Linked DNA regions of Homo sapiens. The main gene of each other region encodes a partner of the protein of the gene in region 2 in a complex. Each region holds a gene or a part of one and is shown on either strand. Other genes may lie near its edges. A codon is read from its position in the direction of its gene.

Region 1 (7,976 bases), on a different chromosome or scaffold from region 2:
AGGATCACTTGAGCCCCGGAGTTTGCAAATTTAGTGCACCATGACTGCACCTGCAAATACCCACTGCACTCCAACTTAGGCAACATAGGAGAACCTCATCTTTAAAAATAAATAAATAAATAAATAAGAATTGTGGGCTTTTCATATTAAACTCTGGCCTGCAATCAATCTTTCCTTTGGATTAATCCTTATTTTTCACCCTTTACAGAAAAAAGACTTCAGATATTACACAATTCCTTGCCTTAAAACAGGTATCTTTGATTCCAACCTCCAAGACAGCTCAACTGATTTATCCCCCTTACCTTGGTAGGATAGACAGAGCTGGAGGGAAAGGCCACCAGGGTGGTGAGATCAGAATAACGTCGCTCTATGGTCTTCTTAGTAGCAGGACAGTAGTGGACACTGCGGACGACTTTGGGACGAACTAGAGAACCTAGGGATGGAAAATGTGCATATATAAACTCACCCAACTAGACGATGATACAGGTGGAACCCAAACATATGCAAGCCTATAATGACTCCAAATACTGTGTTTTTTTGACTAGGTTACGATATTTCAATATTACCTTTTATTCACTTTTTTATTTATATATAGACCACCACCATATCCATGTAAAATTTTAAGTACCACCAATCCCAACTAATAAATAGGTGGAGTTAGAGGTTGGAATTAGAGATTGCCAGGAACCAAGACTCCTCCAGCTCTCAGCAGAATTCATCATTCTACTAATACATGTGATTACTCAAGGTCCCCCAATCATTGTACACACTGAGCCCTCCAAGTTTTACCACGTAATTCCAATGCTCCACCTCTTTGAAGCCACAAGCTACCCAGATCTACTTTGCCTCTCCTGCTTTCCCCATCTCCCTGTCTATTCATTTCCTAAGCGGCCCCCTTTAACCCACTTACATTTAGTGACAATGCCCTCCACACAGACCACACAGCTGAGGAAGCAGGAGGTAAGAGTCCGCGGGGAGACGTGCTTGGAGCCAAAGCTGCCTTCCAGTCCTACGTAGAACTCCTCATACTGCTTGGCATAGGTAGCATCAATGGAGGCCACAAAATCCTTTAAGGCCCGCTGGAAGGCAACCAGCTCCTCAAAGGCATTGTTCAGAAGCCTGTACATAAGCAAGAGAAAGAAAAATTAGACTGGGCAGAACTCAAAAAAATGGATCCTCAAAACAGCAGACATTCTTAGATCATTAAAAACAATGAGAAAATCCAGCTTCTGCTTTCTCCTATAAGTCTCAGTAAAACACCATCCTATAAGACTCAGTAAAATACCAGAACTAAGGACCAACTTCACCTCAACTTATCAAAGATATAAAAATGATATTCAGCTAAACATTGGAAGGAGGGGCATTTGGGAGGAAAATGCCAACCACCCACTTTTTGAAAAAAAAAAAAAAAAAAATAGGTGCAGGTGAGCTACGAGGGCTTGTAGATCAATCCTGTTTCATACAAGTCCTCTCCTGAGAGGCTGTTCCAATCTGGCCAAGAGGGAAGGGAGCCATTCTCACTGACAGCCAGTATATCCCCTTGCCTCTCACCGGTTAGCCCTCTTCTCGTTTTTCCTGCGCAGGTCATTCACATTGACAATCAGCCGGTATTGGTTGTCACTGATCAGCTCCCGAACTTTGCTCTGATAAATTCCCTGGTCTTCCTGCAAAACAGCCACCACATATCACCATAGCCACAAATTTAAAAACAATGTTTCTAAACAGAAGTAGTTCTCATAGCCAGATAGCTAAGTCAATCTCTGCAGCAGAGCTGAATCCCCAGTAAGTATGTGCTCATCAATTTCTCCCTTTCATTCACTGTTTTTAGATTCGAAATAACACCCTAAGAGGGGACTATAAGAATTATAATGACTTCCTCAAGGTCCATGCTGTTATTCCCATCATCATGGACAACTTTTCTGCATGCTGTAATTTCTGTCTTTAGTGGAGAATTAAAATGAGCTCATGAGAAGTCTAAATGGACAGTAAGTGCAAACTTTGTTAAAATGTTAAGTTAAACCTAGCAATGTGAATGTTAAAGGTAACAACGTGAATAGATGGATATGTTGTTTCACTGTAGTAATCATTTCACCATGTATATCAAAACATGTGCACTTCAAATATATACAATAAAAATGTAAATAAAACAGACTCTTAATAGTCACATTAAAATGGCTTTTCATTTAAGAATTATGTAAAAAGTAATATTTTTTCCAATCATCTCTATAATACGGAAAGGGTTCTCATACCCCGACCTAAAGGAATAGAGAATCTCAGCTATTTGGTCACATCATCAACCCTTCAAGATGGTTTTTTCAACATTCTATGGCTTTAAGTCTTGGGTTGCACATAAAATCCCCTTGGCCTGCACACAAAACACTTTTTATCTGCATCTTAGTTGGTATTGAAAAAGAATGCAGCCGAATTATGGAGTCTTTTCCTCCAGGTAAAACGTCAGTCCCTAAAATCTGAGCACTCTGCAACGCGGCTGGTCACTATAGCCCTAGGGCAGCCCCTCCCCCACAGTCTCCTCAAATCAAGAGAGAGCAGTGAAATGCAAAAGGCCGAGGTGGGCTTTGCCAATCTGCTTGCACTTAATGGGAACCTGTCGCCTTTTGCGCGCCCGGACCATCGCTTGTACTTAAGAGAAAGCTGGCTTCCTAAGAGTTCACTTATCGAACACAAACTAGCGAGTCCGGCGTTGAGAAGTTACAAGATTGGGGCTGGAGGCTCGGGCCCGGCAGGCTCCGCTGCGGCACACGGTCTGGAGGTCTGGCGGGCCTCTGGCTTCCCGGCCGGGCCGCGTCCGCAGGGGCTCCGAGCGCTAGAGCCCGCGCGCCGGCGCCTCCCTCACCTCGTCGTCCAGGAAGTCCAGGTAATCTCTCTGAGCCTCCCGCAGCTCCACATCGTCCAGCACCACGGTACCCGCCATGCCCGCTGCCAAAGAACTACCTCCACCAAAGTCGCGTGGAGGTTCCCAGGATGACTCCACCCCGGCGCGAAAACTTCCGAACTCTTCCCGCCACCAAAGGTTACCTCGAGGAAGAGGCGGGGACCTTGGGAGCATATAAGCATTATGATTGGCTGAGTTCTCTGAGGTCGGACTAGCGACTGTCCAATCAAAAGCTTCTTCTTCTTCGGGTTTTCCGCTGCGCGCCCCGCGGTGGCGGGAAACGTACCATCCGGGATTCTCTGTTCCTCCCCTCCCTCCGCCTCACTCACTGACGAGCAAACTGACCAATAGGGCTGAGAGGAGGCTCACAGAGGCTGGTCATTGAGCAGCTGGAGGGGACAGGCTGGCGAGAGGGAAAGCATTGCGTTCTGGGAGTTGTAGTGTTCTCCCTCCTTTCCGGATGTTTTTGCAGGGTTTTTCAAGCTGCAGAACTTTTGACCCGATGCAACGACCAAATTCAGAGGATGGTGCTTTATAACGCAGGGAGATGAAAACATAAAAGCAAATCATTTTTAAGATATATCCAAATCAGAACTGCCCTCCAGTGGCATCCTAGTGTAAAAGTGGATTTTGAGAATCTATAGGATAGAATATAGAACTACAGTACCTTAGGGAAAGATTAGTTAAAAACCCATTTGCTATCTGATACCGTTGCCTGACGAACTCCATAAAGACATCGCCGCAGAGAAGGATGAAGTGAAAAAAAAAATCTGTGTTTACCCTGCCCCCTAGAGACTTCATCGTGTGTTATACAAATTTTGGAAACCGTTACTACTCCATCTTACTTAATAACAGGTAAATTAAAGGCTTTCTGGTCTTATAAAAAGATCACAAGATCCTTTTAAGTAACTTAGCTTACTGAACGATCAGCTCAAGAGGGGAAAAAGTGTTTCACGTCACTTTGATTAAATATCAATCAGTAACTAACAGCAAATCTGAAACCATAATGACTAAAAGATCATCGCACGTCCAAATTTGTATGTTTGTTTTCAGTCCGTCGTGGTTGGCTTTTTCTTATATTTCTAGTTTTATTTTGAGATATAATGTATATACAGTAAAATGCACAAATCTTAAGTGTACAGCTCAGTGAATTTTTACCTGTGCTTACACCCATGTAACCACTCTGCACAATAAAGAGCAAGCCCATTGCCCCAGCATGTGTTTTTAATTTTACTGAACAAGAAGCTGAAATACTGGATTGCCCAACATCAGACATTTGATAATTCTTTATCTGAAATTTCAGCCAACTATTAGCTTATGTTTTAAAGTCTTCAGGACTCACTATGTACTGATAAATATTCTAAGAATAATCTGCCTAAACAAAATATATAGGCCATCTATTTGTGTGGGTATATGTATTTCTAGTTATTATTCAGTTTATAGTTACTGTATGTTTTGTGCCATCCTAGTGGGCAGATAAATCGATCCTTAGCCAAAGCAAAAAGGCTGTCATTTGACTGCTTGCTTTTATGTTTATTAACGGGCAAAAAAAAAAGAAAATTCTAGAATAAAGATACTGTTTGCCGTTATATAGCAAGAGGTAATTACTGATTTATTAAGACTTTTTACTCATAACTCTTATTTTATGAACTTATTGGACAGAGTACTGAGATATCCTCTGCTCTGGAAACAATTTGAAATTAACACTAAAAGAACCGGGAAGCTTAGTTCAAACTAGCAAAGAAGTCGAGTCATTTGTAGTAGAAAGTCCAAAAGAGTGGAAATCTGAAAACCACATCTTTGATTCTCACACTTTTTTCTGGGCTTGTTTCCTTATATACAGTATAAGATGAAGAAACTGAATTAGAATATCTCTGATAATCTGTCTTACTCTAACATTCCATGAGCTAATGGCAAATTTGGAAACTATGTAAAGACAATTCTATTTAATGAATTAATCATGCCATGGTCTTTGATAAAGACTTGATTTGTCCCAATATAATCATCTTCAGCTGTGAAGGACACACCGCTATTTAATTGGTGTTTCTCCCTTCTTTCATTAGGGCATGAAATCTTTAAGCAGAGGAAATGTATTTCCTTTGTTATCCCCGACACCTGCAAACTGCCCAAAATCAATCAGGTTGTTGCTACAGAAAAATTAGGGGCATTTGTACATATCTCATAAAAAGTCCAGCTGAGCTTAGCCCGTAGTCCTCCTCTATCCTGATTCAAAATTAAAAAGCACATATAATCTAATAAAGTAGTGTATCTACAGTTTCCATACTTGGGTCACATTCCTGCTTTCCTCCATTTCAATTTTCTTTCCACCCTAGACTTTAATGGACTCAAGCCCATCTCCAAGGCTGCCTAAACGCTAGGGGGCTCCCTGGAGAGCAGAGTATACAGGAAGAGAATGGAAAGAAAACAAGATTGCAAAGAGATTGCAAAATAGATGTAATACTGCCATTTTTCTATGTCCTCAGGGTCCAAAAAATACCCAAAGACACAATACAAATCCATAATAAATATTATTACAAGAAATTATATATACCTTTGTTCAAACTAATGAACATTATATGTTGCAAAACATTTCAAATAATACCCTGTAATTAATAACTTGTTTAGGCACTCAGGAAAGTGCCATAATTCATTAGCAGTCCTTTGACATTTACTCAAAGGCCACCAAAGCTTGGAGGTGAGCAAATCTATGCCTCCAGGTGTCACAGCAGCTCAAGGAATAATCTGTAGGCACAGGCTTGCCCTAACCTCACAGTTCTGCAGTGTGAAGTCAGAATCTTCAGATGCTGTAGCATCTAGAGTTTCAAGCACCAAGACAGGCAGATTTGGTTACTCTTTCTGGCTGCTCTGTATATTACCTGCACGACTAGGCAACTTACTTAACCACTCTGTGCCTCAGTTTCTTCACCTTTCAAATTAGGTTAGTAGTATCTAACTCAAATGTTTAAGTATCCAGTGAAGTCATAACAGATGTAAACTACTGAAAAAAGTGCCTGGTATGTAGTAAGCATTAAATAAATGTTAACCATTGGTAGTGGTGGTGAATGGTAGTTGGAGAGGAGTCAAGGGATAGGAGAAGGGGAGGAAGCACTGTAGTGCATTCTGAAACAATTCAGACAACCAAATTCAAACCCCCTTCCCACTTCCACCAAAAAACTTACAATACAACCAACCCAGACACTTCCTTGAGTGGGACCTTTTTCTGCTGGAAGTCCAATTGGCTAAAAAAAATAACATAGGCAGGGTGTTGTTTGGCTCGGATTCCGACAGTGTTGGAAGCCATCAGATGCATTTACTCCATGCTCAAAGAACATTATGGAATACTAAATGGACTCCTTTATAAAACTCTTTTAAAAGAGTCTGGTCAGCCGGCACAGTGGCTCACACCAGTAATCCTAGCAATTTGTGAGGCCGAGGCAAGTGGATCACCTGAGGTCAGGAGTTCAAGACCAGCCTGGCCAACATAGTGAAACCCCGTCTCTACCAAAAATACAAAAAAATTAGCTAGGCATGGTGGCCGGCACCTATAATCCCAGCTACTTGGAAGACTGAGGCAGGATAATCGCTTGAACCCAGGAGGCGGAGGTTGCAATAAGCCAAGATCACGCCATTGCACTCCAGCCTGGGTGACAAAAGTGAAACTCTGTCTCAAAAAATAAATAAATAAACGAGTCTGATCACCTTTCTTGTCTCCCTTTTGCACTCTTCTGTTGCTTCCTGGAGTCCTTCCGGTTAGATATGCTAAAAAGAGCCGGAAAATCCAGGAGCCAGACAGAGAACATCAGTGATCATGATTTTCCCATTAAATATAACAACACAGTTGGCTTGCCAACAATTAGTGATTCATTGGTATTTGCCAAGGTTAATTTCAGTAATCTGATTTCTTAGTCCGTAAGAAGTCATCCCCATTCTTTTTCTTTCTGAGAGATAGGTTCACTATGCTGCCCAGAATGGTCTTAAACTCCTGGCCTCAAGTGATCCTACCACCTTGGCGTGAGCCACCATGCCCAGCCCCCATTCTTTTTTTTTTTTTTTTGACGAAGTCTCGCTCTGTCGCCCAGACTGGAGTGCAGTGTGCAATCTCGGCTCACTGCCACCTCTACCTCTCGGGTTCAAGCAATTCTCCTGCCTCAGCCTCCCGAGTAGCTGGGATTACAGGCAGGCGCCACCATGCCCAGCTAATTTTTGTATTTTTAGCAGAGACTGGGTTTCACCATGTTGGTCAGGCTTGAACTCCTGACCTCATGATCCACCCACCTCGGCCTCTCAAAGTGCTGGAATTACAGGTGTGAGCCACTGCACCCGGCTGAGCCCCCATTCTTAATTGTACAAGTCTTTACTGATGCTCTGAAGAGCTTTGCTTCAATGCTTAGAACCACAGATTTGCAGAAGGAAATGATTAAACACAAATTGAGTGAATATGAATATAGCATATGAAATGCTCTGATAATAACTCCATTCTGTAAATCTGTCTAGATTTGTTGTAAGCATGCATTTTTAAAGATACAGTCCCTTAATGTAATAAAATGATGTACATTGGCATGGTAGGGGAAAAAAGAAATAAATGTTTTTAAAAATGATGAAGAGCTTTAGCCATACCAAACAATCAAATATTAGTTAAGCATCTGTAATCTGTATACCTAATTCTGTCCTGGAACAAAGACTTTTAGATCAGTGCTGCTGGATAGAAATATACAAGACACATACATAATTCTAAATTTTATAGTAGCCACATTTTAAAAAGTAAAAAAGAAACAGTTGAAATTAATTTAGTAATATATTTAACCTAACATATCCAAAATATTGCCATTTCAATATGTAATCAATATTAAAAAGTGTTGAGAATTTTTTCTTTTTTCTTTTTCTTTTTTTTTTTTTTTTTTTTTTTTTTGACAGGATCTTGCTCTATCACCCAGGTTGGAGTGCAGTTGCTCAGTCACAGCTCACTGCAGCCTCAACATCCCAGGCTCAAGCAATGCCTCAGGCTCCCAAGTAGCTGGGACCACAGGCATGTGCCACCATGCCCGGCTAATTCAATTTTTTGTAGAGATGGGGTCTGGCTATG
Region 2 (7,639 bases):
CTGAGGCAGGAGAATTGCTTAACCCAGAAGGCGGAGGTTGCAGTGAGCCGAGATCACACCATTGCACTCCAGCCTGGGCCACAGGAGCGAAACTCCCATCTCAAAACAATAAAAAAAAGAGAAAAGCCTGTGTGGTCCTTGGGCCTCTCAGATCCACTGTCAGCCTTCCTCTGTGCCGCTGAGTCGGAGGCCAGCCTCTGCAGGCTGACTAAGTGTTCCAGGCTGCTGGATCACCTTGAGTATCAGGTGGGTTTGTCAGTGGAAGGCACTAGTGAGACAAAAGGTGCTCCACCAAATTAAGACCTACAAGACAGTGATTCTACAACTTTTTTTTTTTTTTGAGGCGGAGTCTCTCTCTGTCGCCCAGGCTGTAGTGCAGTGACCCGATCTTGGCTCACTGCAACCTCCGCCTCCCAGATTCAAGCCATTCTCCTGCCTCAGCCTTCCGAGTAGCTGGGACTACAGGCACATCCCACCACGCCTGGCTAATTTTTTGTATTTTTAGTAGATACGGGGTTTCACCATGTTAGCCAGGATGGTCTCAATCTCAGGACCCTGTAATCCGCCCGCCTCAGCCTCCCAAAGTGGGGGGATTACAGGCGTGAGCCACCACTCCTGGCCTGATTCTACAACTTCTAAGACCAGCCCCTAGCCCCACAAAGTGATAACCCAACACTTAACTTAAAATTTGAGTAAAACAGAGAGCTAAACTAAGTGTCAGAGTCAGGTCCAAAATCCAGCTTGGCCGCACCTGTTTGCACAGTCTCTCTGTTCTCTAGGCCTGTGTCCTGATATGTACAATGACCTCTAAAGTTCCTAGTTCTCAGGCCACATTTTAGCATTTACACACTTCTGCATTCAAGCATCTCTACTGAGCTGCAGACTGCTGCCTAACTTTTTAAATGAGGTAACTGCTCTGAAGTTGAAAAAACAATTGACTAGAAACTGGAAAACCTGTGTTCAAGTTGAAGCTCTACCTCCAATATGCTGTAAATTCAGACGAGTTCCTTAACTTGACCCATAATTTGTGTCAGCTCAGTTTCTTCATTTGTAAGACAATCTAATTGTCTGGCTAGGTGCTCTTTAGTGTTCAAAACAAAACTCATTACCTTTCCCAACACACTCTATCTCCTGAACTCTGATGTTGTTTACCCAGTTTCCTAAGGATCCTCCAAGATCCCAATTCCTCCCTCTTATTCATTATGGACCCCATCTCTGCCCCTGCTCTAATAGCTACAAGTCATGTTTGCTTCATGTCTCTAAAACCCAAACACTGATCTCAGTGCCACTGACCTGACACAGTTCAGACCACACACCTCTCACCTGCTCTATCAGCCACCCAGTAGCCATCTCCCTGTCCCATTCTTTCCTCTCTTCAATCCATTCCCCATATTGCTGCCGCAGTTACCTTCAAAACACAAAAATTACCCTATCACTTCCTTGTCTAAAATCCTCTACCAGCTCCCAGCATGCCTTATAAGTGAACAACAAATTCATGTAGGCTGTGAGCCACCTTCCTAGACTCCCCACAGGCCCTATTGGTCACCCTCTCCAGTGTGACCACGTGACTTTGTGCTGCAGCATCCTTTGGCTGGGATGCCTCGCTTCCTTCTCAGATCAGTAACCTCATCCTTGAGGATGGAAAGGCTCATATATCACCTCTTCTACCCCAGCTCATACTGGTGTTTCTCCTTCGTGCTCCTTGCTATACCTCCTTAGTATCACTTAGCGTGGTGAATTCTATTATCTGTTTTTGTGCCCATCTTCCAGCAGAATGTGTCCTGACATCCACATAATGCCTGCTCTATGACGTAAGTGAAATATACAATTTAGAGTGCAGGCTCTGGAGCCAGAGTGCCAGGGTTCAAATCCTAGCTTTCTTGCTGTGTCACCTTAGGCAATATACTTAAATCTCCCCAATCCTATGCATATATAGCTGAAAAAAGTAGAAAACAATAGTTTAAACATCAAAAAGTTATTTTTGTTTTGTTTGGGACAGGGTCTCCCTGTCACTCAGGCTGGAATGCAGTGGCAGGATCAAGCGATCCTCCCGCCTCAGCCTCCCAAAGTGCTGGGATTACAGGCAGGAGCCATGGTACCGGGCCCTCAAAGGGTTATTAGAAAGACAAAAGATAATGTACATGAAGTGCTTAGCACTCTCCCTGGGGTAGCAGTGATAGAAAAATACAAATAATCATAATATTAATAGTAACAGCAGCAGCAGGAGAAAAGTAATATTAATAGCTAACACTGACTCAGCCCTTACTGTATGTGAGGCATATGCAGAGACCCTTACACATGCCACTCATTTTGCGTCCACTACATCATGCGTTGGGTACTATTATTGTCACCATCCCCATTTTTGCGTATGAGAAAACTGAGAGCACAGAAAGCTTGAGTAACTGCCCCAAAGTCACACTACAGAACCAGAATCTCAGCCAGGTTCCAGAGGCCTAGCTTTTACTGACCACGATTAGATGCCTGAGTGAGCAAGAAATGCTAAATTATCAGGCAACCTGTAAATATTTTAAGGGACCGGAACAAATCTGTCCAAGGAAAACTGCTAAAATGCAAAATTTGCTCAGATGAGGAAATTCACCAAATCGCTGGGTAGCGTAAGCATGAATGCTTTCTCTTTCCTCCTGAATTTTGTTTTGCTGCTTCCCAAGTTTTCCGGAGCTCGGAGGGAACAAGGTGCGAAAGTGAACCCTGACGGGGAGCCGCCCCGCCCCAGAGCCCAGGGCCCAACGCCGGCATGCCCCGTCCAAGTCTACCCGCCCCTCACGTTGAAGGCAGGCAGTTGCCCTTCGGGCGCGCGATGCAGCTCGCGGATCAGTTCCATGGCTTTTTCGCAGAACATGGCGGACGCTTCCCACTCCCGCGGCCTTGCCAACCACCAGCTCTCACGCCAAAATGGTATCTGGGCTCTCGGCGCCTCACTCCTTTCGTTCTAGTCCTACAGCGCCAGGCTCTCGCCTCGGCCTCCGCTCCGCGCTTTGGCGCCGAACAAAGCTAGCCAATAGGAACGCGCCTACGGCGCCCGAAAAGGGACATCCACCGCTCAGCCGCATTCCAAGAGGGGCGGAGTGGGAGGGGTCTTTCCAAGGTGAGGTCCCCGCCCCGGAGATGGCAGAACCCCTCGGCTGAGCAGAGACGGCTTTTCCAGTTCTCAGGCAGTGGGCCGGGGGACTCTACGGGCAGCAGAGCTGGAAATAAATGCACGCCCCGCAGCTTCCTTGTCATTTTCCTTTTGATTCATTCATTCTCGTTTAGGTTCAAGAAAAGAGCACTTTGAGGTTAAGAGGAAAGGCCCAAAAACTTGGTGTGCATTGGTAGGACGCAAGGGTTTCAGTTTTGCAGTGCGGGTTTTCTGTTTGATATTAAAATGAAACTCTCTTTTATTGGGTACCTAGTGCTGGTAGGGACTGCAGTGTGTATTTCATTCCCACAATTATCTCTGAAGTGTTTTAAGACCCGGGATTAATAAGGAAACAGAAGTTAGGTAACTTGCCCAAGGTCACACAGCTCCAGAGTGATTAGACTGTTATTTAGGCTTTCCATTTCCAACACCACAGTACCACCCTTTGATTTTAAAATAGTCTTTTAAAAATATTTGTAATATCTGCCCTAGATTAATACGAATTCACTAGGAATTTTCTTGGCTAGATGGTTATGGAATATTTCTTAAGCATATGGAAGATGGGAATCACTGCTAAAGAATTGTTTTATTAGGCAATTTTTCAAAAAGCAATGTTAATTTCTAACAAGCAATCTTGGATTTTTTTTTTTTTGAGATGGAGTCTCGCTCTGTCGCCCAGGCTGGAGTGCAGTGGCGCGAACTCGGCTCACTGTAAGCTCCGCCTCCCGGGTTCACGCCATTCTCCTGCCTCAGCCTCCCGAGTAGCTGGGACTACAGGCGCCCGCCACCACGCCCAGCTAATTTTTTGAATTTTTTAAGTATAGACGGGGTTTCACCGTGTTAGCCAGGACGGTCTCAATTTCCTGACCTCGTGATCCGCCCACCTCGGCCTCCCAAAGTGCTGGGATTACAGGCATGAGCCACCGCAACCGGCGCAATCTTGGATTAATTCTAGCTAACCCTAGAAACTATGTTGATCTTTTGCAAATATACAGTAGATATGTCATCTAAGGAATGGGCATGGGAATGGCCTACTCAGGCTTATGTTGAATAATGACATTGCCTTTTTTTTTTGGAGACAGGGTCTTAACTCCCGTTACCCAGGTGGAGTGCAGTGGCGCCATCTCAGCTCACTGCAGCCTCCACTTCCCGGGCTGAGGTAATTTTCCCCCCTCAGCCCTCTGAGTAGCTGGGACTACAGGCTCAGGCCACCACACCTGGCTATTTTGTATTTTAAGTAGAGACAGGGTTTCACCATGTTGGCCAGTCTGGTCGACAACTCTTGAGCTCAAGGGATCCGTCCGCCTGGGCCTCCCAAAGTGCTGGAATTACAGCGTGAGCCACCGCACCCAGCAAACATTGCCTTTTTGAAACCGCCTTTGAAAAAATTATAATAGAGAAAATTATTACAGTGAAAGAGATCTGACCTAACTGGCTCCATCTTGCTTCTAACCGCCAAGCCATCCTTGTTCATTCCTGGGCTTAGGGCGAATTAACTTGGGGAGAAACTTAGTTTATAGTTTAATTTTGAAACAAATACTTAGCCCTTTACCAAAGCGAAACCCTTTTTGTCTGGGGACTAGATTGCCTTTGCAGGAGTAACAGAGTAGCCACAAGACTAGAAATTTACGAGTCTCGCAGCGGGAGGCTACAAGATTCTAAAACCTCCCCAAGTGCTCCTAGGGATAGCAGCACTATTATAAAACCTAAGACCAGTGCTTGAGATATTTTGTAGACCCTGCACTTGATGGGATCAGCTGGCACCACCCAGATCGATAAACTGGCTCATCTGGTCTTGTGGTCCCCACCCAAGAACTGACTCAGCCCAAGAGGACAGCTTTGACTCTCTATGATTTTATCTCTCATCCAACCAATCAGCACCCCTCACTTTGTGACCCCCTACCCACTAAATTATCCTTTAAAATCCCTATCTTGGAGTTTTCTAGGAGACTGATTTGAGCGATAATAAAACTCCAGTCTCCTGTACAGCTGGGTCTGCGTGAATTAAACTCTTTCTCAGCCAGGCCCAGTGGCTCACGCCTGTAATCCCAGCACACTGGGAGACTGAGGCGGGTGGATCACCTGAGGTCAGGAGTTCGAGACCAGTCTGGCCAACATGGTGAAACCCCATCTATACTAAAAATGCAAAAATTAGCCTGTCCGGGCATGGTGGCTCACACCTGTAATCCCAGCACTTTGGGAGGCCAAGGTGGATGACCTGAGGTCAGAAGTTCAAAACCAGCCTGGCCAACACAGCGAAACCCCATCTCTACTAAAAATACAAAAAAATTAGCTGAACATGGTGGCACACGCCTGTAATCCCAGCTACTCAGGAGGCTGAGGAAGGAGAATTGCTTGAACCCAGGAGGTGGAGGTTGCAGTGGGCCGAGATCTCACCACTGCACTCCAGCCTGGGTGACAGAGTGAGACTCTGTCTCAAAAAAAAAAAAAAAAAAATTAGCTGGGCCTGGTGGCACATGCCTGTAATCCCAGCTACTTGGGAGGCTGAGGCAGGAGAATCACTTGAACACTGGAGGCGGAGGTTGCAATGAGCTGAGATTGTGCCATTGAGCTCCAGCCTGAGCGACAGAGCAAGACTCTGTCTCAAAAAACAAACAAACAAACAAACAAACAAAAAACCAAAAAACTCTTTCTCTATTGCAACTCCCCTGTCTTGATAAATCAGCTCTGTCTGGGCAGTGGACAAGGAGAATCCCTTGGGCAATTATATTTTCATCTCTACAGTAAGGAATAGTTTATCTAGGTGTTTTTCCCAAATACACAACTCTAGACTGGACTATGCTGCAGGACTGAATCAAAGACCAGCATGCACTACCCTCCTCAGCCATAGGCCTTTTTAATTTCAGCCCAGAGGCAAAGTTCATTAATGACCCCAAGACTCACTTCCTTAACAGTAGAATGAGAACAGTGGAACCACCTCTAAGGAGTTAAGATGATTCAGTCATACCTTCTGCAAATATTTATGAAATGCCTAGTGTTGAAGTTAAAACCAAACTCTAAAATATTTAAAGAGATTTATTCTGAGCCAATGAGTGACCATGGCCCAGGAACAGCCTCAAGAGGTCCTGAGAAAGCGTGCCTGAGGCAGTGCAGTTACAGGTTACAGGTTGGTTTTATGTATTTTAGGGAGACAGGAATTATAGGTAAAATCATAAATCAACACATGGAAGGTGTACTTTTGTTCAGCCTAAAAAGGTGGGATATCTTGAAGCAGGGAGCTTACAGATTTTCTGATTAGCAATTGGTTGAGTCAAGTTTTGTCTAAAGACTGTCAATAGAAGGAAATTATTGAGTTAAGGGGGAGGTTGTGGAGACCAAGTTTCTTGTTATGTGGATGAAGCCTCATAGGCAGCAGCCTTCTGAAAGAATTGATGGTAAATGTCTCTTTTTGGATCTTAAAAGGTGTGTTAAACTCTTGTTTAACCTCTCCTAGATTCAGGAAAGACCTGGCTGCATTAACGGAGATTCTTAACAGATGCAAATTCCCCACACAAAAGATGGCTTTCCAGGGCCATTTCAAAATATTTCAAAGAAATATATTTTGGGGTAAAACATCTTGATTTCCTTCAGAGTCTGCTATCTGTCATGTGATGCTACATCAGTCAGGTTGGAGTTTGGACCTTATTGCCACAAAGAGTGTGTTTGTGAGTCTTAGGATCTTTATTTTAATGTTAATGCTGGCCAGTTGCACCTATACTCCAAAAGGGAGGGGGTACAACAAGGTGCATCCCATCTTGCTTCTTGTCATAGCCGATAATTCCATTTTTGTTTTTTTTCAGGTTTCCCTGGGGTCCCCTTGGCCCAGAAGGGGTCCATCCAGTCAGCAGGGGATGGAGGGTTTGGGATTTTATTTTTGGTTTACACTAGTATTAGCCTGGCATTGACCTAGATACTGAAAATAAAGCAGTAAACAAAGTCCTTTCTACAGAGTCTACATTCCAGTGTGGGAAAACGCAATACACAGATACACTGATAAGAAATATATTGGTGAAAAAGCACTAAGAATAACCCAAAGAAGATGAATAGAGTGAAGGTGAAAGAGTCAGGGTTTTGAGTTCAAGTGTTCAGAGAAGGCACAGACCTGAACAGGGAGAAAATAACCCAAGTGGTTATGGGCCTTAGGGAAGGCAGGAAATTCCAGGCAGAGGAATCAAGCTGCAAAGGCCCCAGGAAGGTCGGCTGAGGATGAGCAAAGAGGCAGTGATGCTGGAGCAGGTTGATGATAGGAGAGGCCAGCAGTCAGGTCAGATGTTGGGAGCTGAAAAGGCCAAAGGGATTGTGACCAACTCAGCATTCCACTGGAGGCTATATTATCAAACAGCAAACTGTTTATCAAGAATGCAGGATGTGAGCAAACTCACACTGTGCCTGCCACCAAAAGGTTGGCTGAGGGCCGCGCTCCCTGGTGCCGGGCTCCTTGAAGTTATCTACGGAGAAATCTAGTGCCTATTGTTCAAAGGATGCAGTCTCGCAAGCCTG
Region 3 (7,017 bases), on a different chromosome or scaffold from region 2:
GTTTGTTTCCACCTATTGACAATTATGACTAATGCTGCTGTGAACTTGCATGTACAAGTTTTTGTGTAGTCATGTCTTTGTTTCTTTTGGTTATATACCTACATGTGGAAATGCTGGGTGACATGGTAACACTAGGTTTCAAGGAACTGCCAGATTTTTGAGGAACTGCCAGACTTTTCCACAGCAGCTGCACCATTTTACATTCCCACCAGGAGGGAGGGTTTCAATTTCTTCACATCCTCACCGACACTTGTTATTGTCCATCTTTTGGATTACATTCATCCTAGTGAGTATGAAGTGGTATCTCGTTATGGTTTTGATTTGCATTTTACTGATGACTAATAGTGTTGAGCATCTTCTCATGTGCTTATTGGTCATTTGTGTATCTTGTTAGGAGAATTGTCTATTCAAGTCCTTTGTCTTTTTTTTTTTTTTTTTTTGAGACAGGGTGTCACTCTGTTGCTCAAGCTGGAGTGCAGTGGTGCAGTCATGGCTCACTGCAGCCTCAAACTCCTTGGCTCAAGCCATCCTCCCACCTCAGCCTCCTGAATAGGTGGGATTACAGGCATGAGCTACCACACCTGCTAATTTTTAAATTTTTAGTAGAGATGAGATCTTACCATGTTGCTCAGGCTGGTCTCAAACTCCTGGGCTCAAGCAGTCTTCCAGCCTTGGCCTCCCAAAGCACTGGGATTATAGGTATGAACCACCGTGCCCAGCCTAAAACTTTTATATATTCTACATACAAATCCCTTATCAGATAAGTAATTTGCAAGTATTTTCTCCCATTCTGTAGGCTGACTTTTCACTTTGGCAGTGTCCTGTGAAGTATAAGATTTGTTAATTTTGATGACATTTAAGTTACCTACTTTTTCTTTTGTTTCTTGTGCTTTTGGTGTCATATCTAAGAAACCATTGCCTAACCCAAGGTCATGAAGATTTCACATTATTTTTTCTACTAACACTTTAATAGTTTTAGCCCTTACATTAGGAGTATGATTCACTGGAGGTTTTTTTTTTTTTTTTTTTTGAGACAGGGTCTTACTCTGTCACTTAAGCTGGCATGCAGTGGCATGATTTCCACTCACTGCAACCTCTGCCTCCCAGGTAGCTGGGACTACAGGCATGTGCCACTGCACCTGGCTAATTTTTGTATTTTTTGTAGAGACATGTTGGTCAGGCTGGGCCCCTTACTCTTTACTATAGTCTCCTTACACTTCAGCAAGGCCCCTTGCTCTTTACCATGCCCCCTTATACTTTACCAGGCTCCCTTGCTGTTTAACAGGACCCCTTGCTCATTACCAGGACTCCTTGCACTCCAGGGAGGCTCCTTAAACTTTCCCTTGGCCCACTGCACTCACCTGCTCTTGCATAGGGCAAAACTCTCAGTTTGGGCCGCTGCTCTCCAGTTGCCTGGAGTTTTAAGTCTTCTTAGGTCTCACTACCTCTTGGCTTTCTCTCGCACTGATGTAGATAGTATACCTGTCTGGCTGTTCATGGTCTCTTTTTACCTGCTTACACTTTGGGGTTTGAAGTGTTCCCTTGTTCTCTTAATTTGTTGCAAATGTGGGTCCTAGGTTTTTGGTTTTGCAATCTAGTTGCTCTACTTTTATCTAGAAATTTGGGAAAATCCAAAAACTATTTTACCACTGTTGCTGCCATCATCCCAGCATTGATGGGTAGGCTTTAGACATTGTCTACCAACTTCCTGCTATGACAAAGGAGCATTTATCCCACTCTTGTCCACCTTCCCTCCTGTTGGTACAGTTTTGCCACTATTTTTAACTTCTTTGTAACTTTAACATATTTATGTCTTCTTTCATCACTAGTATCTCGTCTCCCTACTTTGTAAGAAAAGGATATTTAAAACACTCTTAGTCCATTTTGTGTTGCTATAAAGGAATACCTGAGGCTGAGTAATTTATAAAGAGAAAAGGTTTATTTGCCTCATAATTCTGATGGCTGGAATGCTCAAGATTGGGCATCTGCATCTGGTGAGGGCCTCAGGCTGCTTCCACTCATGGCAGAAGGGGAGCTGGTGGGTGCAGAGACCATGTGGCAATGGAGGAAGGAAGAGAGAGGAGGAAGGTACTAGGCTCTTTTTAACAACCGTCACGGGAACTAATAGAGTAAGAACTCACTTACACCCCCTAGCCCCAGGGAGAGCATTCATCTATTCATGAGGGGTCTGCACCCATGACCCAACACTTCCCACTAGACCCCACCTCGAAGATCTTGGATCAGATTTCAACATGAGGTTTTGAGGGGACAAATGTCCAAGGTGTAGAAACAGCCTTACTTTGCTCTTCAGTGCTGCTCAGTACTTTCTGAAATTTGTGCTTTTACGTTTTCAAGACTGATAACAATCTTGGGTTAGAGAAAAAGATATAAATTGTCTTATCTTTGGTTACAGGTTGATTTTAAAAGTTGAAAGTAAACAAATAGTTTTACTTTATTGTGCTAATAAACTATTCCAGAGACAATCATGTGTAGTAATAGATTACTATCTGGCACGGCTCTTTGTTTTTCCTGCTGTTTTTAATTGCCTCCTTTATCACATCCATTTTTTTCTCCTCCAAACTCCTTCCAGCTGTTTTTCTGTGAGCCCCTTTTTGCTGGAGAGTCTGGGGTTCTGTCTTCCCACCACAGCCTGGACCTACAGCTCTCTAGACCTGCTTTCCACTGTCCCCATGGATGTCCAAATCTTGGCTGTGCCTCTTAGTTTAGTCCAATGTTTCTTGGGATCTTCATCTTTGTTTCATTTACTCCCTCATTAAATTAGAGCACAGTTCTTAAGTAACATTCAAAGAAAGGGCGCATGTGAGATAAACTTTCTGAGTTCTTATATATCTGACAATATCTTTATTTTACTATTTCTTTACTATTCCCCCCACAGAAAACATCCGTGTTTTTTATTCTTGCTTTTCAGGCTTCCTGGAATGACGATGCTCTGTCTTATTTTTTTGCCTTACATTTTCCATAGCTTTGTCTTGTTATCTATGTTGAGGAAGTTTTTCTTGACTCCAGACTTGGAGTGGATGTTTTATCTTTTGCAACTGTTTTAATTTCCATCAACATTTCCTAGTTTTTAACTCTTCCTTTTTCATAGCATCCTGTTCTTGGTTTAGGAATGTAAGAGTTGCACACATCTCTCTGAAGATACTAATTAGAGTTCAGTTTAACTTTCTTTAGTTCTCCAAATTATCTGTTTCTTCAGGGTTATTTTTTTAGGCCATAGGCATTTCTCAAATGGTCTGATGTCTTTCATATTCAAGAACGGGATTGTGGACCCTTGGCTGGGCCATGGGTATCTGGGCACAGCTCACTGGTCATAAGACATCGTTTCACCTTAGCAGGCAGGAGCCAACTGTGACACTTTGGGACTCCCCACTGTAGGGCCCAGAGGCTTTGCTTGAGGATTCTACTTATTCACAGATGGTACATTTCATATACTCAGAGGGGAGCCTCCCTTTTTGTGGGGAAGAGTAAAAATCTATCTGTTGGGTTTGAGGGGATCCCTTGTCCAACCTCCAGCCCTTGCCCAAGCCTCCCCTGTGTCAGAGTCCTCCTGGGCCTTCAGGATCTTCCCTTTGTTGGCTTTTAGTTTCCTGTCTTCTGATACTTGCACCCGCTCCACCTCTCATTTGCATTACTGTGGGTTTATACATTTTAAAAAATTCTTTCCTTTCATGTGAAAGACAACTCAGGAGGGAAAGAAGATAAATTCTTACCCCCAAACCTCTTCCTGAACCAGGAACCAAGCAAACTATTTGTGACTTTGGTATTTTACCAAGAGTTCCTGACAAGCACCACCAAAGCCATGTGTCTGCCCTGTTACAGGAGTAACCTGGACAAGCTGTACCATGGCCTGGAACTCGCCAAGAAGCAGCTGCGAGCCACCCAGCAGACCATTGCCAGCTGCCTTTGCACCAACCTCGTCATCTCCCAGGGGCCTTTCCTGTACTGCTCTCTCATGGAGGTCAGGCTTCCCACAGAGCACAGGCGCCTGGTCACAGCACCAGTGGCTTCGTCTGACCATCTGTCTCGCCTCCGCAGGGCACTCCAGATGTCATGCTGTTCTCTAGGCCGGCATCCCTAAGCCTGCTCAGCAAACACCTGCTCAAGTCCTTTGTGTGTTCGGTGAGGGGCCAGGCGGGTGCTGTGGGTACAGGAGGGCAGGTGCTTGGAGAGCTCCCTGGATGGGGAGTTAGATGCTGGCCTTGGGGTGCCTGTGGCTGTTGACCAGCTGCAAGGTCTAGGCACATCCATTACTTTTTCTGAGCTGTCTTTTTCTCAGCTGACCCCTAGGAACCTTCCAGTTCTCTCAAGCTCTGATTCATCACTGGCTGTCTAAGTCACTCAGACAAGTAGGGAGGGGCCCTTGCAGAGTGAACAGGGCTGGGGCTTGTGTCCTATTGTTGCAGGTCAGGGAAAGCGGGATGGTTGTAGCACCGACTGGCTTCCCAGCAACAGCTTGTCCACTAAGCTGATTTCCTGTGCCTGGCTTTGTCTTCTGTGTGGCCTAACCCCCTCTTTGCGTTGGCGTGGAACACACTCCTAACTTGGCTGGCTTTAGGGCAGGGGTCCTCACCTAGCCGACATGGGGCTCCTCCCAGATGTGACATGTCAATAATTGAAGTCCTCCTCTGCTTCGAGGATGAGAGTTTATGCCGGGGGCTATTTCAAACAAAATGTGCTAACAGGAAGTTGAACTTTTCTTTTGCCGCTGAACTAACCAGTAAAATGATGACAGATGACATGTGTTCTATCAACCAGGTAATGTCAAAGATAAACTAGGGACAGAGCATGGGCCTTGACGTCCTCTAGGCTGTGTTCAAAGATGAGCCTCCTCATTTGCCAGTTGTGTGACGTGAGGTAGATGATCTGACCTGATCCTCAGTTTCCTCATCCGTGAAATGGGTGAACACATACCCACTTTACAGGATCCATTCATTTACCAGACATGTATTGAACATCCACCACCTGCCCGGCCCTGTTGTGGAGTGACTGCCCATCCTGGTGCACATCCTGGGACACCCCTCAGTCCTAGACACACCAGGAATACTGGTCACCTGGGCTGTAGGGTGTGGGTGCAGCAGGCACAGCAGAGAAGGAAACCCTAAACCTTTATCCTGAAGGAGCGTGCCGGCGGGGGGGACGAGGAGTGGCAGCTGCGGTTAAGATGAGGGGATGTGCTGCCAGGGGATGGAGCAGGATGAGGCGGGGTGGGCTGGGGCCTCCTGGAGAAGGTGGCAGCTGCTGCAGGACCTGAAGGAGGTGAGGGAGAGGATAGCAGGGCAGGCTCCTTGCAACAAACAGCCAAGGGGCAGTGGGGCTAGGCTGGTAGACAAGGAGGCTCGGGGACACAGCATCACAGCCACAGTACCATGCTGTGGGTACGGGAGGGCAGGTGTTTGGAGAGCTCCCTGGACTGGGAGTTAGACACTGGCCTTGGGCATCTAACTTGGGGTGGCTGGGTGGGGACCAAGGCGTCTCCTGGTGACAGCGTCCCTGGAGGCTTTGGGGAGTGGAGTGACTGGGCGCTGTTGGGCTCTGGGCTCTGAGTGTTGAGCTGGGGCCCACCATACCCTGACGGAGGGTGCTCTCCGACTCCATAGACAAAGAACCGGCGCTGCAAACTGCTGCCCCTGGTGATGGCTGCCCCCCTGAGCATGGAGCATGGCACAGTGACCGTGGTGGGCATCCCCCCAGAGACCGACAGCTCGGACAGGAAGAAGTGAGCAGCTTCCACTCGTCCTGGGACTGGAGGGTCGGGGGTGTTGGGGTTATCAGCTTATTAGCCCTGCTGAGTAGAGTGGTATTTGCCTCTAGTGTCTGTCCTGGGGCGGGGGGTGGGAAGGGTCCATTGCAGGCCGCCTGGCCCCCGACATGTCTTGTGTGTCAGCAGCTTTTTTGGGAGGGCGTTTGAGAAGGCAGCGGAAAGCACCAGCTCCCGGATGCTGCACAACCATTTTGACCTCTCAGGTGAGAGTCTCCTGCCACTCTGCCACACTTTCCCACCTGACCCTTTGAGGCTATTGCAGGCCCTGGAACCAAGCAAGTTGGCATGGCTGGAGGAGCCTGGCCAGCAGCCCTCTTGACCTTCCAGATCTGGCCCTGGGACAGGCTACTCCTGGTGGCTCAGGGAGCTCTGGTGAACCTCAGGCCCCTGAGAGGGAAAAAGTGTTTTCCAGGGAATGACTGGCCTGGCTGTGGCCTTACAGCGGCCTTACAGCCAGTGCTAAGGATCACTTTCCCAGCAAGCCTAGGGGACTGGCCACCAGGGCCCGTGTGCCCCGATCTCACCTGTCAGGGTTGGGTTGTTTCTGTTTCATGGGGTGAGGGAACAGCAGGGCCCGTGATGACCCAGGACACCAACCCTTGCTGCGCCAGCCACCTCTCCACAGGCCGGGGTGTGTGTCGTGATAGGTGCTACCTGTGAGATGGCTGGGACACCGGCCCCACCTGTGTGTCAGATGAGCCCAGAATGGATAGGCCTGCCTGCCCACTGCTTCCCCAGCACCAGCACGGAACATGGTTCACATTCGGCTGTGTTGGCGTTCTTATTATTGTTGACAGGTTTTAAAGTAAAACAGACGTATTGATATTTCACCCCGGGTTAGTTTGCTAAAGCTGCCATAACAAAGTGCCACAGACAGGGTGGCTTCAACCACGTGTCTCCTCCCAGTCCTAGAGGCGAGAAGGCCCAGGTCAAGGTGGGGCAGGGCTGGCTTCTCCTCAGGCCTCTCTCCTTGGCTCACACAGATGACCACCTTCTCACTGTGTCCTCACGTGGTCTTTCCTCTGCATACCTCCTTGGTGTCTGTGTCCAAACCGTTTCATCTTCCAAGGACACCAGACAGATTGGATTAGAGCCCACCCTAACAACCACATTTGAACTTAATTACCATAGTCACATTCTAAGGTCCTGGGGGTAAGGGCTTCAACATAGAGATGTGGGGGAGACCGTTCAGCTCATAACACCCTCAGTACTTCCTGCACCTCTGAGAAAGGATA
Region 4 (7,827 bases), on a different chromosome or scaffold from region 2:
CATCCTGTTTTCTTCTTCTCTGAGGTATCAGTCTGTACTGGGCAGTATGAAAGAGCTGTTTATGTACTGTGGATAATCATCTTGTGTCAGCTACATATTAGTATTTTGCAAATATCTTCTCCCAGCCTGGTGGCCTGTCTTTTCACTCTAATCCAGAAGTACAAACAGGCTGGGCACAGAGGCTCATGCCTGTAATCCCAGCACTTTGGGAGGCTAAGGCAGGCAGATCACAAGGTCAGGAGTTCAAGACCAGCCTGGCCAACACAGCGAAACCCAATATGGTGAAACCCCATCTCTACTAAAAATACAAAAAGTAGCCAGGCGTGGTGGTGCACACCTGTAGGCCCAGCTACTCAGGAGGCTGATGCAGGAGAATCGCTTGAACCTGGGAGGTGGAGGCTGCAAGTGAACCAAGATCACACCACTGCACTCCAGGAATGTATCCCTTTTTTCCTTTATGCTATGTGCCTTTTGATTTTTGTTTAATGAACCCTTTCCTAACGAACCAGGAATTCTTAATGCTGTTCCACAAACTAGGTCTGTGGGTGGATTTCAGGGGATCTCTGATCCCCTGGAAGTCATATGCAAAATTCTGCATGGGTGCATGTGTGCGTTATTGTGGGATGAAAGACCACAGTTTCTACCAGTTTCTCAAAAAGGTCTGTGATATAAAAACAGATTAAGAATCACTGCTAAATAGTAAGGATTATCATGTAAGGTATAATTTAAAAATCATTTTAGTTCCGTTTTGTCATTCGTGATATCATGTATGGCAGGGAAGAATGAAGAATACTAAAGTAGCAAACATGAGAGAGCTCTGGAAAGGGGCAGTTAGAGCAAGAGGATAAGGATACTTACTATGAACAGCTCACATCTAGTGAGTGCTTATCATGTGTCAGATAGCATGCTGAGTGCTTTACACAATTACCACATTTAATCAAAAACTCCAGGACATAGACACTATTATCATCTCAATTTTATTTTATTATTTTTTTGAGACGGAGTTTCACTCTTGTTGCCCAGGCTGGAGTGCAATGGTGGGTAGGATCTTGGCTCACCACAACCTCTGCCTCCCAGGTTCAGGTGATCCTCCGGCCTTAGCCTCCCGAGTAGCTGGGATTACAGGCATGCGCCACCACATCCGGCTAATTTTTGTTTTTTAGTAGAGACGGGATTTTACCATGTTGGTAAGGCTGGTCTCGAACTCCTGGACCTCAGGTGATCCGCCCACCTCAGCCTCCCAAAGTGCTGGCATTACAGGCTTGAGCCACCGTGCCCGGCCCTATTGTCTCAATTTTATAGGCAAGCAACGGCTTGAGACAAACTCCCTAACTTGCTCAAGATCACATAACAGAGGAGTGTCACAGACAGATTTAAATCCAGATAGTCTGAACTCCTGTTACCAGAGCATCATGAGATATAAGTGTAAAGAACACAGTTACTGGCACATGGGAAATATGCAGTAAGTCATAGCTATTACAACTTAAAGGAGAAATATTTCAGAAAGGATTTTAGATAAGCAGTGGACATATGGAGAGCAGACGACTCAAGAAAAAACATGTGAGAAAAAGGAAAAATATGACCAGTTTTCCCTTACAGGCATTTCAGCATTTTCTTGCTAAACAGGCATTCTCCAGGGAAACAGCAGATGTTCAAGGGACTAAGGTAAAGAAGTTCAGGGACCTCTACAGTCCCTGAAAATATCACGTGGATCCTTGCTCTGTGAACTGTTCACTGAATGTGCCCAAAGCTGTCCCTTACTGACCCCACTTGGGGATGCTGTGTTTGATATGATGAGGTCTCTAACAGAGGATGTCCTTCTTGCTTCCCGTTTCCATGTAGATGGTAAGATCCAGTCCCTGTTCTAAAGTAAGCCCCAAATTCCGTTTCCTCATCTTGTGATCCCTGATATTCACAGTTGAACTAAATAAAAAGGCTGACTGGAGCAAAGGGATTCGATCTGGGATGCTTACCTGCTCCAATCTTTCAATGAGCTCTGCAGGAGTTAGGACCACTTCCTCACTACCCCCATCAGAGTCCTGTCCCAGGAAATCCACTTCTTCGGTCATCTTCTCTGAAACCAGGAACCTAATGAGAGGGAAAGAACCAATACTCTGCAATGCGTTTTCTAATTATCTGCAAGAACAGACATCTATCTGGAGAAAGGAAAGGTTTATTGAGGTTTCCTGGGGTTGTAGAGGCCCTTTAGCAAGTGGTGAGAGAACGCAGGGACTCTAGTTTTCCAGTGTCTGCCTCTTCCTCCAAGGCTTAGGTCAGGTATCCGTTTCTCAAACAAGCCTCCCCCTTACTTCTGTCCACCAAGAGCTGAGCACCCATCACACCATACAATCACTATTCATTTCTTTGACTTCCCAGTAGAGGTCTTGTTCCTCAGGGACGGGGTTCGTTTTAGTTCAAATACGAATCGCGCCTCTGCTCAGTGCCTGGCACTAAGCACTGGGGACGCAATGACGTGGGAAGCCCCTGCGCTCAGCACAGCGCTTGACTCCTAGCAAGCACTTAACATTATTAGGAGCTGGCCGGGCTCACGCCTGTAATCCCAGCACTTTGGGAAGCCGAGGCAGGAAGATACCTTGAGCCCAGGAGTTCGAGACCAGCCTGGGCAACATAGGGAGATCCTGTCTCTATAAAAACAAAAATTGTTAGGAAGATTAATCAATGCTAATTTCCCAGAGCCACAAGGGCCGGCGACATTAGACCAGTCGGCGATCCCAAAGGCCTAAGGAGGTGGATGGCGGGGACAAAGAAAGTCCCTGGGGTCGCAAGGAAACTGCGAACATCCCCCTCCCCTCCTCCCTCTCAGTGCCACCCACACAGGCCTGCCCTAGCCACAGAGGTCCCATTCGACGCTCACTCGGGGACCTGGGAGACAGCGAGGCACTCCACAGCAGCCGGCGGTAAGGACGGGGCGTTCGTGGGGACGCAGTCGGGGCACCAGGAAGCGGGAAGACAGAGGAACAAACTGCTCAAGGACTTGCCGGGACCAACTCAACCCTGCAACTTCTCAGCTCCCGCGCTACTCTCGCAAAGTTTCCGCCCAGGCACGACGTCATCGCGCAAGGGCGACGCTGACCAATCAAGGCCCGGGGGGAAGAGCGGGGCGGTCTCCTTGGGCCCGCCCACCCGGCGGGCGGGGACTGTCTTCGCGGCGGCCTGCAGTCCCAGCAACCCAAGGACTTGAGGCGGCGGGAGGCTGGTCCGGGTTGGCCCCGCCCACCTGGGGGCCGGCCGCTCCGCTGTGCGGTCCGGGTTGCACTACCCAAGAGCGTCGGGAGGGGGCGCCCGCCACCGCGGCCAAGGGGAGCGGCGGTGTCCGCCCCGGGGGGTCCCACCCAGAAGTATGCTGTTGAAAGCAGGCCGCTGCAGCCTCCTGGGCCGTCTCCACCCACAGCTCTCGTGGCTCTTTGGGTTCCTCCGTCTTTGCGGGGTTTCACCTGTGGTCAGTGTGGTCATTGCCTTCAGAATCTCCAGTATATTCCTTTTCATCTTTCTTGAGACAGGGTCTCGTTCTGGTGCCCAGGCTGGAGTGCAGTGGCACCACCACAGCTCACTGCAACCTCCGCCTCCCGGGCTCCAGCGATCCTCCCACCTCAGCCTCCGGAGTAGCTGGGACCACAGGCCAGCGCCACCACGCCCAGTTATTTTTTAATTAAAAAAAAAAAAAAAAAGAACTGTGGCGGGGTTGGGGGTGGGGAGGTTCTCCCTATGATGGCCAGGCTGGTCTCGAACTCAAGGATCCAAGCAATCCTCCCACCTCGGCCTCACAAAGTGGGTACTGGTTCTTGAAGCCTGGGATCGGACGACCAGCAGAAGCATCGCCTGGGAATCCGTGAAAATGCAGGTTCTCAGGCCCCACCCTGGCCCACCGAATCAGAAACTGGGGGTATTTCACCAGACCCAGGCCCTCCCGGTGACCCTGACACAGCTGAGGTTTGAGAATCACTGCTTTGGGGCCGGGCGCGGTGGCTCACGCCTGTAATCCCAGCACTTTGGGAGGCCGAGGTGGGCGGATCACGAGGTCAGGAGATCGAGACCATCCTGGCTAACATGGTGAAACCCCGTCTCTACTAAAAATACAAAAAAATTAGCCGGGCGTGGTGGCGGGCGCCTGTAGTCCCAGCTACTCGGGAGGCTGAGGCGGGAGAATGGCGTGAACCCGGGAGGCGGAGCCTGCAGTGAGCCAAGATGGCGTCACTGCACTCCAGCCTGGGAGACAGAGCCAGACTCCATCTCAAAAAAAAGAAAAAAAAAGAAAAAAGAAAAGAGAATCACTGCTTTGGGGCAATGCTTTCAACTCACCTTCTGGAGGGGAAAAGCACAAAAACCCATGTCTGTATATGTATATATTTTTTCCATCTTTGTGTGATCCAGTTTTTCTTCTCTGAGTTGCTGATTCTTTTCTCTTTGCTGTCCTTTGTTTTCTGTGCAAAGCGTTGCTTCTGGCTTCCCTAAAAGTATCTCTTCTCCATCAATCTGAGGGCTCTTTGCAAAGCTGCCCTATGATGTCATATTGATTGACTAGTAAAATGATTGGCTAATATAGTATGATCGTACCTGCCTGATTACAATCCTGTTATGAAAATGACAATAGAATAAGCCGAGTGAGAGAGTAGGCATCTTTACAAAGCGCTGTGTAAGCTGGGGCATATCAGCACGGGATTCCCAAAAGGAAGGGACATTTGAGCTGTGTCTTATGAAATGAATTTTGTGAGTGGCAAATAGGTGGTTATTTCAAGGTCTGTTTCAACGGTTTGGTAATCCAGTGGTTTTTGGTTGTGGCAGAGTGTGTTTCCCAAACATAGCTGCTCTAATATGGATCTCACCCCACATACCCTTCTTACCATGTGACATTGACACTCCTCCATCAAGAGGTGGGGTCTATGTTCTCACCTTCTATTTATTTATTTAGAGACAGGGCCTCACTCTGTCGCGCAGCCTGGAGTGCAGTGGGGCGGTCACGGCTCATTGCACCCTTGACCTTCCTGGGCTCAGGTGATCCTCCCACTTCAGCCCCCATGAGTAGCTGGGACTACAGGTGTGTACCATGCCTGGCTAATTTTTTGTATTTTTGGTAGAGGTGGGGTTTCATCATGTTGCTCAGGCTGGTCTTGAACTCGGGCTCAAGTGATCTGCTCACCTCAGCCTCCCAAAGTGCTGGGATTACAGGTGTGAGCCACAGCGCCTGGCCCTGTTCTTGCCTTTTACATCAGGAAAGAGTTTTTTAACTGCTTTGACCAAGAGAATTTGGCAGAAGTGATGCTGCTTGGCTTCTGGGACTAAGTCATAAAAGGCAATGTGGCTTCCACTTGGCTCTTTTTTCTGGAGCCCCATCTCTTGAGAGCTGTGGGCTGACGTGGAAGAAGTCTGGCTAGCCTGCAGTCGATGTGCAAGAGAGTCGATATGAAGATGCCAGGCAGAGATGGGGAGCCTTACTGGAGGAACCCCAGAACCCCAGTTGTTCCATTCTCCAGATGTCTGGGTTGAATGAGCCTTCAGGTGATTCTAGTGCTGAGGCTTCAAACCGTCCCAGCTAAGATGAAGGGAGCAGAGATGAGCTTCTCTGCTGAGCCCTGCCCAAATCGCAGATTTGTGAGCAAAATAAGTATTGTTGTTGTTTTAGGCCCTAAGTTTTGGAGTGGTTTGTTATGTAGCATTAGCTGACTGGAACAGTGGTCTTTGAGCACAATCGCATTCTTCCATAATTCTCATTACCAAATAGCTTTTCAATGATGTTTATTAATATTCCTTAATTGTTACATATTTGAGTCCAAGCATAGATAACGTCTCTACACAAGTGCCGATTATGTAGTTTATTGATTTAAAAACTTCCCTTCTCTGGGTCCAACCACCTTCTCCAATCTCCCCCGCTCCTCCACTGGAGAGCTAGAGCCCAGCTTCTGCTTCCTTACTTAATAGAGGTGTGACCTTAAACGAGTCACTTTGGATTTCAGTTGCACCACCTTTTTTGCTGTTGTTGTTAGATGACGTTTCGCTGTTGTCCCTCAGGCTGAAGTCCAATGGTGCGATCTTGGTGCACTGCAACCTCTGCCTCCTGGGTTCAAGTGCTTCTCCTGCCTCAGCCTCCTGAGTAGCTGGGATTATAGGCATGTGCCACCGCGCTTGGCTAATTTTTGTATTTTTAGTAGAGACGGGGTTTCACCATGTTGGCCAGGCTGATCTTGAACTCTTGACCTCAAGTGATCTGCCCGCCTCGGCCTCCCAAAGTGCTAGGATTACAGGAGGGGGCCACCACACCTGGCCATCAGTCACACCACCTTTTTTTTTTTTTTTTTTTTTTTTTTTTTTTGTGAGATGGAGTCTCACTCTATCACCCAGGCTGAAGTGCAATGGTGTGATCGCAGCTCACTGCAACCTCTGCCTTCCAGGTTCAAACGATTCTCCCACCTCAGCCTCCCGAGTAGCTGGGACTACAGGTGCACGCCATCGCGCCTGGCTAATTTTTGTATTTTAGTAGAGATGGGGTTTTGCTATGGTTGCCAGGCTAGTCTCGAACTCCTGACCTCAAGTGATCCACCTGTCTCAGCCTCCCAAATTGCTGGGATTACAGGAGTGATCCAACCGCGCCTGGCTAATCACACCACCTTTTACACAAAATTAATATGTGTCTGCCTGAAGACAGAGGGACAGACCAAAAAATTGAGGGACCCGTTTCACTTCTAAGATCTTTGATTACAACTAATATTCATTAGACAAAAACACTTTTAGAGGAAATGAGTTGGCAGAAAAATATTTCTGCTGTGTAAAGAAGGGTTATTAAAAGAAATGCCAAAGCAACACACAAACTTTTGGTGTTGATCGTTTGGCACTGTAAAGTTCAGGAAGGTGGGAGAAAAGAGGTCTTCAATTACATTATATAGAATGAAGAGAAAAATCAGGAACACCTGGTTGATGTGCACCCACTGTCAAGAAGTGTTTTAGAAATAATAAGATAGCCATATAAATGGAATGCAATTCATTAAAATGATCACAGATAAAAGGTGATTACATAGATTATTATATTAGGAGGATGAAGTTTGTGGATAGAATTTGCAGGCAAGCTTAGATGATTTAAATTGCAAGATGAACATACTAACATGAATTCAGACAAGTAAAACATGAAGTTACCTCGAAAGAGAAGGAAAAAGCTACTGCCCAAAGTGGAAGAGGAAGATACAGAAAATAGGATCCTATACAACTGAAGAAAGTGACAAGCCACAGCAATATTCAGATATTCTCAGTGAAGATGTTAATGGAAATTATAGACACAGCAAATAGAAACAGCCAAAATATTTGTGGACAGCCATACGTTATTATTATTATTACTATTTTTTGAGACAGAGTCTCACTCTGTCGCCCAGGCTAGAGTACAGTGGCGTGATCTCGGTTCACTGCCAGCTCCGCCTCCTGGGTTTACGTCATTCTCCTGCCTCAGCCTCCCGAGTAGCTGGGACTACAGGCGCCTGCCACCACGCCCGATAATTTTTTGTATTTTTAGTAGAGACGGGGTTTCACCATGTTAGCCAGGATGGTCTGGATCTCCTGACCTTGTGATCCGCTCGCCTCGGCCTCCCAAAGTGCTGGGATTACAGGCGTGAGCCACTGCACCTGGCCCAGTGGTACATTATTTTTATTTTTTGAGACAGAGTCTCGCTCTGTTGCCCAGGCTGGAGTGCAGTGGCATGATCTTGGTTCACTGCAACCTCTGCCTCCCAGGTTCAAGCGATTCTCTTGCCTTGGCCTCCAGAGTAGCTGAGATTACAGGCATGTGCCTCCATGCCCGGCTAATTTTTGTGTTTTTAGTAGAGA

Evidence for each region.
Region 1: GINS1 (region 2) and MCM3 share a complex: the UniProt entries of both Homo sapiens proteins name them as parts of the CMG helicase complex.
Region 3: the proteins of GINS1 (region 2) and CDC45 are in contact, whole or in part, in a cryo-EM structure (PDB 6XTY), measured with the Homo sapiens proteins. Residues at the interface, in NP_066545.3 of Homo sapiens: Leu146, Tyr147, Glu149, Arg151, Glu158, Thr165, Ser166, Val167, Leu168, Lys170, Lys171, Asn172, Ser173, Gln174, His175, Phe176, Leu177, Pro178, Leu195; in NP_003495.1 of Homo sapiens: Arg18, Gln37, Phe40, Gln41, His44, Val45, Gln46, Tyr47, Thr48, Leu49, Val50, Pro51, Glu64, His65, Gln68, Phe69, Thr394, Asp395, Ile398, Leu401, Asp402.
Region 4: the proteins of GINS1 (region 2) and GINS4 are in contact, whole or in part, in a crystal structure (PDB 2E9X), measured with the Homo sapiens proteins. Residues at the interface, in NP_066545.3 of Homo sapiens: Phe24 (codon at 2,791), Leu29, Leu33, Met36, Tyr40, Leu69, Leu70, Arg73, Thr76, Val77, Leu80, Tyr81, Leu84, Arg88, Trp92, Glu109, Glu110, Trp113, Asn116, Tyr117, Ser120, Leu121, Tyr124, Ser127, Leu128, Gly129, Gly130, Asp131, Leu134, Ile136; in NP_115712.1 of Homo sapiens: Met55, Glu59, Glu83, Arg84, Arg86, Tyr87, Leu89, Ser90, Leu93, Arg94, Leu97, Glu101, Phe104, Glu125, Glu126, Phe129, Glu132, Phe133, Asn136, Thr137, Tyr140, Leu141, Val144, Ala145, Leu146, His148, Met149, Pro150, Pro151, Asn152.

What each region holds. Positions count from the first base shown.
Region 1 is NC_000006.12:52,281,743-52,289,718, forward strand, and holds the start of MCM3 (DNA replication licensing factor MCM3), read right to left. Parts: upstream 3,001-7,976; 5' UTR 2,933-3,000; coding exon 2,855-2,932; intron 1,665-2,854; coding exon 1,552-1,664; intron 1,120-1,551; coding exon 911-1,119; intron 434-910; coding exon 303-433; intron 1-302. UniProt on the Homo sapiens protein: Acts as a component of the MCM2-7 complex (MCM complex) which is the replicative helicase essential for 'once per cell cycle' DNA replication initiation and elongation in eukaryotic cells.
Region 2 is NC_000020.11:25,403,042-25,410,680, reverse strand, and holds the start of GINS1 (DNA replication complex GINS protein PSF1), read right to left. Parts: upstream 3,009-7,639; 5' UTR 2,861-3,008; coding exon 2,786-2,860; intron 2,611-2,785; exon of another isoform or gene 2,386-2,610; intron 1-2,385. UniProt on the Homo sapiens protein: Required for correct functioning of the GINS complex, a complex that plays an essential role in the initiation of DNA replication, and progression of DNA replication forks.
Region 3 is NC_000022.11:19,510,909-19,517,925, forward strand, and holds part of CDC45 (cell division control protein 45 homolog), read left to right. Parts: intron 1-3,840; coding exon 3,841-3,979; intron 3,980-4,056; coding exon 4,057-4,140; intron 4,141-5,618; coding exon 5,619-5,737; intron 5,738-5,905; coding exon of another isoform or gene 5,906-5,908; coding exon 5,909-5,985; intron 5,986-7,017. UniProt on the Homo sapiens protein: Required for initiation of chromosomal DNA replication. Core component of CDC45-MCM-GINS (CMG) helicase, the molecular machine that unwinds template DNA during replication, and around which the replisome is built.
Region 4 is NC_000008.11:41,524,445-41,532,271, reverse strand, and holds the start of GINS4 (DNA replication complex GINS protein SLD5), read right to left. Parts: upstream 3,012-7,827; 5' UTR 2,876-3,011; intron 2,089-2,875; 5' UTR 2,070-2,088; coding exon 1,974-2,069; intron 1-1,973. UniProt on the Homo sapiens protein: Required for correct functioning of the GINS complex, a complex that plays an essential role in the initiation of DNA replication, and progression of DNA replication forks.